2 separate regions of the Homo sapiens genome follow, and region 2 is reported to be linked to region 1. Evidence: microRNA targets listed by miRTarBase, many of them from high-throughput screens and not tested one by one. Region 1 holds a microRNA gene; the other region holds the end of a gene's coding sequence.
What was found. The annotated mature microRNA hsa-miR-6749-3p reads CUCCUCCCCUGCCUGGCCCAG and lies in region 1 at 3,921-3,941, opposite strand. An mRNA with a match to its seed (bases 2 to 7 or 8) in the 3' UTR can be bound and repressed. Matches are read on the target gene's strand: a 7mer-m8 pairs with bases 2 to 8, a 7mer-A1 pairs with bases 2 to 7 and ends in A, and an 8mer does both.

Region 2: miRTarBase lists DIS3 as a target of hsa-miR-6749-3p. Seed matches in the 3' UTR shown: 7mer-A1 at 1,876-1,882, 7mer-m8 at 2,809-2,815, 7mer-A1 at 3,832-3,838 and 7mer-A1 at 4,276-4,282.

What each region holds. Positions count from the first base shown.
Region 1 is chr11:64,898,467-64,903,841 of GRCh38, forward strand. It overlaps MIR6749 (microRNA 6749), which reads right to left and starts at 3,989; the gene lies at 3,921-3,989. ATG2A (autophagy related 2A) reads right to left here. Exons shown (of 41, transcript NM_015104.3): 25 at 5,124-5,194; 26 at 4,822-4,898; 27 at 4,050-4,214; 28 at 3,794-3,920; 29 at 3,496-3,710; 30 at 2,418-2,626; 31 at 2,028-2,163; 32 at 170-376. RefSeq lists an enhancer at 1,855-1,984.
Region 2 is chr13:72,755,120-72,760,494 of GRCh38, reverse strand. It overlaps DIS3 (DIS3 exosome endoribonuclease and 3''-5'' exoribonuclease), which reads left to right. Exons shown (of 21, transcript NM_014953.5): 21 at 617-5,375. The coding sequence ends at 700. It overlaps BORA (BORA aurora kinase A activator), which reads right to left. Exons shown (of 12, transcript NM_024808.5): 12 at 4,299-5,344. The coding sequence ends at 5,279. Among named protein-coding and RNA genes, the nearest start is that of DIS3, 24 kb to the left of the region's middle.

The DNA.
Region 1 (5,375 bases):
TGTTCCCTTCGCTAACACAGCCCCTAGCTCTGCCCTTCTCCCAGGCTCACAAACAACCTGGGTGTTTGTGTGGGAATGCGTGTATGTGTGTGAATCCATGCATGCGTGAAGATGTATCCCCAACGGTCTGGTGCCCTGCCCCAGGGTGGATGGTGCAGGTCGCTCATACCATGTTAGAGTGGGCACGTCGCGGCATCCGCTCACTCGTGTGTAGGTACAGGAACTTGTTGATCTGGGAGGAGGCGAGCCGGTCTCGGACCTCCAGCTCCTGCACGATGAACACCTGACGGGACAGCGGTCGCTCCTCCAGCTCCTGGCTGGGGGCCGCAGGGCCTGTGGCTGGCTCCGCTGGGTACACCTCGTGCTGGAAGCTTACCTGTGGGGTGGACAGAGGCCTGGCCAGGTAAGCAGGGCCCCAAGAGGGAGGGAAGGGCTGGCCCCAGACCCCTTCTCTATTCTTTTTTTGAGACAGAGTCTCACTCTGTCGCCCAGGTTGGAGTGCAGTGGCGTGATCTCGGCTCACTGCAACCTCTGCCTCTCGGGTTCAAGCGATTCTCCTGCCTCAGCTTCCCCAGTAGCTGGGATTGCAGGCATGTGCCACCACACCCAGCTAATTTTAGTAGAGACAGGGTTTCACAACGTTGGCCAGGCTGGTCTCGAACTCCTGGCCTCAAGTGATCTGCCTGCCTCGTCCTCCCAAAGTGCTGGGACTACAGGCATGAGCCACCATGCCCGGCCCCTACCCCTTCTCTATTCTATGCCCAGCAGGGACCTGCCTCTCCCTCCAGACCTGACCCTGCTCTTGCTTCCCATGCCAGCTGCACTGGTCTCTGCCCCTCAAGGAGTCCAGGCCTGTTTTGCCTTCAGGACTTTGCTCTCGTAGCCCCTCTCCGTGGAGAGCCTTCCTTCCCCCTCTTCCTGCACACCCGCTGGCTGGCCATCAGGTCTCAGAGAGGCCCCTGGCCCCCTGCTCTGACACTCATCTCCCGCAGGTTCTTGCAGCACAGCCCACCAACCCGAGCAGCCTGAGGCCCCTCTGCCCTTTGCCTCTAGCGGCTCCTTGGGAAGCCCAGCACTGGCCTGGCTCACTCTGAGCAAGTGGGACCCCCCTGCCCCAGGCAATTTCCCAGGCCCAAACCTTGAACCCTCTGTACCACTCTCTGTATCTCACACACCCCATCCGCAGCTGAACCTGTGGCCAGCCCCCATCTAGGCTCTCCTGAACCTGCTCACTAGCCCTCCCTGATTGCTGCAGAGCCCCACCCCACAGAGGCCTCTCCTCAAAAGCCCTGAGGGGTTCGTCTCTTGTAAGACTCAAAAGAAACATTCTGGGTCGCTGGTTATGCACAGGCTCTGCTGCTCCTGGAAATGTCAGGATGCTTCCAGCTTCCAGCATTTTTTTTTTTTTTTGAAACAGAGTCTTACTCTGTTGCCCAGGCTGGAATGCAATAGGGCGATCTCAACTCACTGCAACCTCTGCCTCTTGGGCTCAAACAACTCTCCTGCCTCAGCCTCCTGAGTAGCTGGGACTATAGGCACACACCACTGCAAATGGTTAATTTTTTTTTTTTTTTTTTTTGGTAGAAATGGGGTTTCGCCATGTTGCCCAGGCTGGTCTCAAACTCCTGAGCTCAGGTGATCTGCTCTCTTCGGCCTTCCAAAGTGCTGGGATTACAGGCATAAGCCACCATGCCTGGCCCCAATTTGCGGCTTTCACGCTGTCCTCTCTGCCTGAAAACTCTTCCTGGCTCACATCCCCACTTGTTCAGGTCTTTGTTCAAATGGTGCCTTCAGAAGAGGACTTTCCAGACCCTCCCCAGCACACCTGTCTCCTCCACCCCTGCAGACTCTCCCCTGAGCGCTCTTCACCATCGGACACACTCGATACATCTTGGTCCCTGCCTGGCTTCCTCCACTACAAAGGCAGGGGTTTTCCTCTGCATTAGTCATTGCTACACGTGACATCGAGAACAAGGCCCGTTGTTCTATGACACACACGTGTAGTAGGCACTCGCCACCCCACTCACCTTGCTCAGCTGGATCTCCATGAGGACATGGTGCTGCCGCCCGCTGCCCCCCTGCGTGCGCCATGAGTTCTGGGGCCGGTTGGGGCCAGAGCAGCGGGAAGGGGAGCTCCTGGGACCTGAGAGGCCAGTTCTTGCCCTGGGAAGAGGGACAGGGGCCAAGCTGACTCAGAGGAACCCCATTCCCTCCCCGTCCTCAGCGGGCCTTTTAGCCTGGGACAAGAGACCCCCGCTAGCCCCAGTCCTGGAAGGCAGGCGGGATAAGGAAGGATGAGGAAACTGAGGCCCACCTGGGGTGGATGGGGCTCAAGGTCTCCAGCTGCTGAAAGTCAGACCTGGACCAGCCTGAGCCCCAACCTTCACCAGCTGCCACCTGCACCCGCTCCTCCTCACCTGTGGCCGGGGTGGGGGCCAAAGTCTCGGCCCCCATAGAGGTGCCAGACGAGGGAGACCTCACGTAGCACCACCCGAGTGCTGGGCACTGGGAAATGGGCAGGTGCCCGCAGCAAGTCCGTGCTGCCGATCGGCCGTGAGAAGTAACCGTCCCTCACAACGATGGGGCCGGGATGCAGCTGTGTCACCACAGGCTCCCCATCTCGGGGCTGCAGGGAGGCCAGGTAGACGTGTGACACAGATGTTCGATCCAGCCCAGCTGCCCCCAGCCCCAGCAACCTGGCCTCACTTCTTTTTCATTTTTTTTTTTTTATAGACAGGGTCGGGTCATGTTCGGTCACCCAGGCTGGAGTGCAGTGGCACAATCACAGTTCACTGCAACCTCTGCCTCCTAGGCTCAAGCGATCCTCCATTCTCAGCCTCCTGAGTAGCAGGGACTGCAGACATGTGCCACCATATCTGGCTAATTTTATTTTTATTTTTTGTAGAGACGGGGTCTCACTATGTTGCTCAGGCTAATCTCTCATTGCTGGACTCAAGCAATTCTCCCACCTTGACCTCCCAAATTGCTGGGATTACAGGCGTAACCTACCATGCTTGGCCTCCTCCCTGTTTTTGATGAAAGATGACACTCCTGGGTTGCTATCACCCGAGTCTATGCCTGAGTGGTCTGTCCAAGAGGAGCCTGAGAATGCCAGGCTCCTGCCAGCCCTGCCTCCTAAGACCTGGGTGAGTTCAGACATTCCCACTGGCCCTTGCAGCCACATGGTTCTCCATCCCTCTTGCTAACTGCCCTCTCCTCTTCCTCCATCCCTTGAATTTCCCAGTCCCTCTGCCCAAAACACCAGGCCTCCTCTTCCTCTGGAAATCCCCCTACTCCATCAAAGCCCAGCATCAGGGCTGCCTCCCTAGGGTGGCACAGACCTAGCACCACCCCCGAGGTGATGGCAACCACCTCCTGCCTGCTTCTCTCACCACGGGAGCTCCAGATGGCCAGGCAACCACCCCTGAGTGTTCCGTCCCCGCTCCAAACACACCTGCCTGGACGGCAAACTGGTCCATCCCTCCCACCACGCACCGGGATGCCCAGGCCGGGAGCATCAAGGATGCAGAACTCATCACTGTCCAGGGTGTCTCCATCGCCCTCCTCTTCCCTTTCATCTTCCTTCTCCTCTGAGCATGACCCTAAGCTGCCAGCAGGGCCCCCGACAGGTGGTGAAGGGGGTGGGGCCCCACTCCGTTCACCTGGGAATAGGTAGACGGAGATGGGCGACGCCTGAGGGAGGTGGCCACCTATAGGAGAGAGGCCAGTTTGGAGAGGCGCCCACAGTGGGTGCCTGACTGTGTCTGCTGTCCCCACAGCACCCCCACTTCACCTGAAGGCTGGGCCAGCTCCCGTAGGCTGCGCTCGGTGTCCAGGAGGGCGTCGGCCAGGTCACGCTGGTTGATGAGGGCCGTCTCCACTGGGGGGCACGAGGGCAGAGAGGCAGGACTCTCCGAGAGCTGGGCCAGGCAGGGGAGGAGCAATGAGTGAGACAGGACAGAGCTCCCCCAACCCCAGGCCCGAGGGCCATGGCAGGGGAGGGGCCTGGCCGAGCTCTGGTAGCCTGTGTGGCCAGGCCTCACCTGTACCTTCTGGCCGGCGATCTCCGTGGGGCTGGGGGGCCGGGGTGGGGGGTGCAGATCGCCTGTGCTCATTACGTACTGGAGCAGGTTGACCAGCAGGGCACAGGAGTCGGCACAGCTGTGCACGTGTACCACATTGTTGGAGCAGCGCAGCTCGAATAGTGGCTGGCTCTGCAGGGGCGGGGTGGGGGGAGCAGCTATGTGAACACAGGGGCCACTGCCTGCTGGCCCCACCCGCTCGCTGGGAGGGCACCGCAGTTCTGATCCTGCCACAGGCAGAACAGGGATGGTCTCTCCTGGAGTGGATGACCTGCCCAGTAACTCCACTGAACAGATGAACAAACTGTTCACCCAGAGGGTGAAAGGGGCTTGGCCCAGGGCCATCCAAGGAAGCAGGAGTGTGCCCACCCACCCTACCCCACTCCCCGTGAAGGGCTCTGCATGCCTAGCGAGGCAGGGCAGGTTATCTCCATCTTACAGGAGATGAATCCGGGGACCTACAAAGGTGGCTGATTCCCAGGGCCTCGCTGGTGCCCTGGCTGCCGCGTCCTCTGGTGGCAGGGCTGAAACCCATTCATTCATTCAGCCAGCATCAAGGGACACCCCCACCAGGGCTGTACTATGGCCCTTTGCAGGAGGGGCGCTAACTGCAGCCCAGGAAGGGCAGGCATGAACTGTGTCCGGAGCCCAGGCACGTGAGGGAGCAGCAGCCCCTGAAGACTCCCTTGGCCCCTGCACCTGCTGTGGCTCCAGGAGCCAGAGTGACAGCCTCACTCACCAGTTTGCCCTCGGTGCTCCCTTTCCAGGTTTTAATCACAAGTTCCAAGAGGTCAACATCCAAAACACAGACATAATCTGCAGCAGAGGCGAGAGAAAGGTCCTGTGGCCCCCTTCCACCCGGCCCCGGCCCCAGCACCTGGGGGAAGGATCCGGTTGATCCAGGTGTAGTCCCTGCTGTGCGGGCTACGTGTGGGAGCTAAGGACCCGGCCAGCAGCTGCGGGGAGACACCTGGCTGCTCTGGGTGTGGCCGGGGCGGTGGTCCCTCAGAGGGGAGGGAGCCCAGTCCCGGCCCTGCCCACCTCGCCGCAGGTCCAGGGTCTCCACCTCACACTTGTCGGACAGGTACAAGGCGGAGTCATCGAGGATGAACCTGGGGGGGAACAGGGCTGAGAAGGGCCCGGGCACCGCTGCAGGGGGCAGCTCCACGGGAGCCGAGCAGAGGGGTCCCAAGCCCACAGGAGGTGGTATGGACAGGCCCCTCCAGCCTCAGCGTTCCTGCCTGCACAATGGGGAGAAGGCCCAGACAGCAGGCAGTGGGAAGCGGGCAGCAC
Region 2 (5,375 bases), not on the chromosome of region 1:
GAACAAACAGTACATATTTTGTCAAAGAAGGGACGTAGTTATTTCTGTTTAATGTTAGAGGGAACCCTGTAAGTAGTGTAGAAACCAAATATTTGCATAGCAAATCCTGTTTTCTCACTGATTTCTTTAGGCCACGGGATTCTAGACATCTGAGATTCTGTTCAGGTCTTTGGTGCTAAAATAAAAAGGTCTTCCATTCTCCTGCCTAGTCTTTTCTATCTAGAAGTTTTGAACTCTGCATTTTGAAGATGAAGTGTAGGTGTTTCACCTAAGATACTGGTTCTTAACTTTTGTCCTTCCCCAACACACTTGAAATCAACTCTGATTCTGTCAATCACAGTGGCTCCCCATTGGGAAGGCTGTTTTGTAGTTAAAAAGAACACTTCCTAAATGACATGCTTCTCACCTGTTGAGACCATGTCTAGCTTTTACATTTTTGAACCACTGCTACTTTGTAAAATACCTTCTGTGTATAAAACCTTTAATTAGCCCCCTTTCCCCTCCCTACCACTACATCCTTTTAAATTTGAAGCTGGCAGTGGGGAAGGGGAGGATGAGGTTGAGATGTATTCTATCCTTTAAATCACCTTATTTCCCCCCATTTGCATTACTTTAGATACCAGGAATAAGCATTCCTACTGATACTTCAAACATGGACCTTAATGGACCAAAGAAAAAGAAGATGAAGCTTGGAAAATAGCTATATTCAACAAAAATCTTCAAAGACTGGTTTCTTTTTTAAAAGAAAAAACTTGAAAGAACACTTCTAAGCCTAAGTGTGTGATACAGTTTGTTACTTTTAAGTACATTTTAATAATTTCAGACATCTGCATTTTTATTGAACAGTTGACTGTATCTGACCCATCATACTACTATACTTCTGGGTTGAACAGAATTATTTATGCAGAATAATTCAATTGAATATCCATCACTTAAATACAGTGACAGGACAGCAACTTCAGGGATCTGTAAAGATCATTTAAATGGAGTGCTCATCTCATTGAGGAGCAGATTAATTTTGCGTAAGTACTTTGATTATTTAATATTTGTAAGAAAAAACTTTCATTTTCCTACAGAGGAAAATAGAACAATTTTAGAAGCAAGGAACAATCTCTTTTCTAAGTCTTGGAAGCTGTCAGTGTTGAGGATGTAATCTCCTTTGCCATCTTTAATTCACCTAACTTACACTAGGTGTTCTCTTACTGTCTTTAAAAGCTTCCTGTATTTTATTAGTGGTCCTTGAAAAACTGTGAATGTTTGGGAATTGGTAGAAAGGCAAAAAGTAGGATATTTTGACCTGACTGGAAAGATGGTTGTGTTTTTATTGCCAGGTAATAAGTGTGATCATTGTTGAACTTCAGCTCCAGTGTCTCTCCAGAATAAGACATTGGCATTCAAATGTCTATATCTTGTTACTTACAAAATAAAAAACAGATTAATTAGTGGCTTTTAAATTGTAGTTATATCAGTGTATATACACGAGGGGAACTGTATAAAGACATACTAAAGGGAACAGATTAAAATAAGTATTATTAATAAAATTTGGTGTGCCAGACTGACTACTTCCCTTGCTAATCACAGAGATTAGTAATGATTAAATTAATATCTTCAGGAATATTTTGGGATAGGGTTGCCTTAAAACATTTTACTTGGCTTATTCAATTTCTAAAGCACTTACGTTGTGCCAGGTTCCACTCAAGTAAATTATCTCTGCCTTCAAGGAGCTTGCAGTATAGTGAGAAAAGCCTGCCAAGTAAATCAGCAGGTATACTAAATAGGTAGTCATTTAGGCACTCAATAAATGTTGACTAATTTTTCCAGTTTCCTATTACTGAGGAAAACCTCCATACACTGAGGCAGAAACTTGTGTCAGTTGGAGGAAAATAGACTTGAGTAGTCTTTGGTCCAGGTAAAATGGGTCAGTGACACTGAAACAGTAGAGTAGGAGTCAAAAAACCTTTTCTGTGAAGTGCTAGAACATTTTAGACTTTGTTGGCTATGGTCTGTATTGCAACTATAGTACACAACTCTGCCGTTGATAGTGTGTAAGGAGCCATATACAATATGTAAACAAATCAACATGACTGTGTTTCAACAAGGCCTGATTTGTTAAGTTTCATATATAGTCATATGTCACTTAATGACAGGGATATGTTCTGAGACATGTCACTTGGCAATTTCATCATTGTGTGAAAATCATGATGTAGTTACACAAACCTAGATGGTATACCCTATGGTATCCTATATGGGATAGCCTATTGCTCCTAACCTACAAACCTGTATGGCATATTACTGTACTGATTACTGTAGGCGGTTGTAACACAGTGCTAAGTATTTGTGTATCTAAACATATCTAAACATAGAAAAGGTACAGTAAAAATATATATATAGATATATATAAGATATAAAATGGTACACCTATTTAGGACATTTACCATGAACAAGTTGGCAGGACTGGAAGCTGGCTCTGGGTGAGTCAGTAAGTGGTTAGTGAATGTGAAGGCCATGATATTACTGTGCACTACTGTAGACTTTTATAAACACTATATACTTAGGCTACATAAAGTAATTTCACTATGATGTTACCATGGCTGTGTCCCCAGGCAATAGGAATTTTTCAGCTCCATTGTAATCTTACGGGATCATCATCGTATATTTGGCCATTGTTGACCAAAAGTTATGCAGCACATCATTATAATTTTGATGTGTCACAAAACATTACTCATTTGATTTCCCCCACCCCCGCCAACCATTTAAAAAAGTTTGCCGGCTAGGTGCGGTGGCTCATGCCTGTAATCCTAGCATTTTGGGAGGACGAGGCGGGTGGATCACTCGATGTCAGGAGTTTGAGACCAGCCTGGCCAACATGGTAAAACGCCGTCTCTACTAAAAATACAAAAACTTAGCTGGGTGTAACGGCGGATGCCTGTAATCCCAGCTACTTGGGAGGCTGAGGCAGGAGAATCGCTTGAACCTGGGAGGCGGAAGTTGCAGTGAGCCGAGATTGCACCACTGCAGTTCAGCCTGGATGATGAGAGTGAGACTCCATCGCAAAAAAAAAAAAAAAAAAAGAAAAGAAAATTAGCCAGGTGTGGTGGCAAGTGCCTTTAATCCCACCTCAGGAGGCTGAGGCAGGAGAATCGCTTGAACCTGGGAGGCAGAGGTTGCAGTGAGCCAAGATCGCGCCACTGCACTCCAGCCTGGGTGACAGAACAAGACTGTCTCAAAAAAAAAAAAAGAGAAGAAAAACTGCCTACAGGCCATAGTTAACCTGCAATAGAGAAGAAAGGGAAGTAGGGCAGTGCATGACTGGCCTTAGGTTTTTTCTTTCCAAGTTTATTTTCTTGTGCTTCAGCTACTAGAAAGGTTTAATTCAGGGATAAGTCCCAATTGAGTAGTTCAAGATGATCAGAGACTTTGCTATTTTCCCCTAAGTTCTATTCCATAATCTAAAATGTTCTGTTTCTAGTGCCAGTTCTTATGCTAAGCAGGTTACGTGGAATATATCACTTAACTCAAAAAGCCCTGTTAAGCCAGGACTGTTATCTCCATTTAACAGATGAGAAAATGGAGGTTTATGGTCTGTTCTCACACTGCTACGAAGAAATACCCCAAACTGGGTAATTATTATAAAGGAAAGAGGTTTAATGGACTCAGTTCCGCATTGCTGGTGAGGCCTCAGGACACTTACACAATCATGGCAGAAAAAGGAGAAGCAGGCACCTTTTTCACAGGGCGGCAGGATGAAAATGACTGCCAGCAGTGGAAATGCCAGACGCTTATAAAACCTTCAGATCTCATGAGACCGGCTCACTATCACAGGAACAGCATGGAGGAAACCGCCCCCATGATCCAGTTACCTCCACCTGGTCCCACCCTTGACACGTGGGGATTGCTACAATTCAAGGTTAGATTTGGGTGAGGACACAGAGCCATACCATATCAGCCCAGATCAAGTAGTGACAGAGTAGGGATTTGAATACAGGTTATAGTCACTATTGTGTTATTTCTTGACTTTTGTACTATTAAAAAACTGTAGCCAGTGAGGCTTCTACCCTTAGTACCCAGAACTCCTTTTAGGTATAGCAATTGTTTTTAGGTAAATTTATATTGAGTTTAACACCTGTGTGATTAAAGACAACTTTCCAATGTAGTATCTGTAGCCATGTCCCCTAATGGCTATTAGTGTTCATGGTTAGTGTGTTGAAGATGAGCCAGGTACATAACGCGGCACATTTTCTGCAGGTCAGCAGTAAGGTTTCAAGGTACAGTTATGGAGGAAAGAAGAAAATGACACATTGATAACACAGGTCTTTATTCCCTTTTGAATGAGACAGTTTTTAAAAGTTGATTTATAAATACAAAAATACATTCTCCAAAGATAGTATTTCCAAACTGTTATATACCCATCTACTCCCAACATGGATATAAGTTTTTTAAAAAAATAGTTGTATATAACATACATATCTGCCCCAGTGTTACTTCACAGGCCTATGCCCTACGGGAACTCCACTCTCCCAGCCCCACTTTTTCTCTTGGTTCTCCCACATTCTTATTCTCCCACATCCCTACCCACGTTTGAGCTGGAAAGGATGTCCCTACCCTAGGCATGAGGTATATTTTATTCTGGGCACCACACATTTGCCCCATAGATAACAATACACGTGATGATGTCACTAGTACTACCTTTCTAGTATTTACATACTTAAAAGTAGTAACTAGAACAGTTATCACTGGAACTAAGAATTTTCCCCACAGAGGTGAACAGACCAAGAACTAAAATTTCAGGAAACCTGTTTAATTTCTTTTGTATCTTTGAAAAGTTAGTTTTATATCTAAGATTTCTTCACATAGGTTATAATTCATCTGTATGTTCAAGCTTTTATGTAAAAATATATAGTGCCTTCAGTTTTAACATAGTTTCACATGTTCTCAGAACTGCTAAATTCAGTGCTACCAGTAAGGCTTAATAAGTAGTTCATTGACCCTGTAAGATAGGAGCACTCAGCTCTGTCACAATTTGTTGTTAAACACATCACTCAATGTAAGTATAAAAATATTTATTGATAAAAAATAAACTTATAATTCAGCAACTTGAAGTTCCAGGAGCATTTCTGTTGTTCCTATGTCAGTAAGCCCTTGATTTTTCACATTAAGGAGGGAAAGCTAAGCATGTTACTTGAAGTAATTTTTTCCCAGTCACCATCATGTTGATCCTGTGCACAACGATATATGCGAGGAACTCTTAAGCTTAGTCTTTGATTCTGACAGAGGCATTCTATGGACTGCTGCATTGAAAAGGGCTTGCTGTTTTCATCCAACACCTCTGTGTTGTGTGGTCTTGCTGTGAAAAAGAAGACAATACCTTGTTTTCA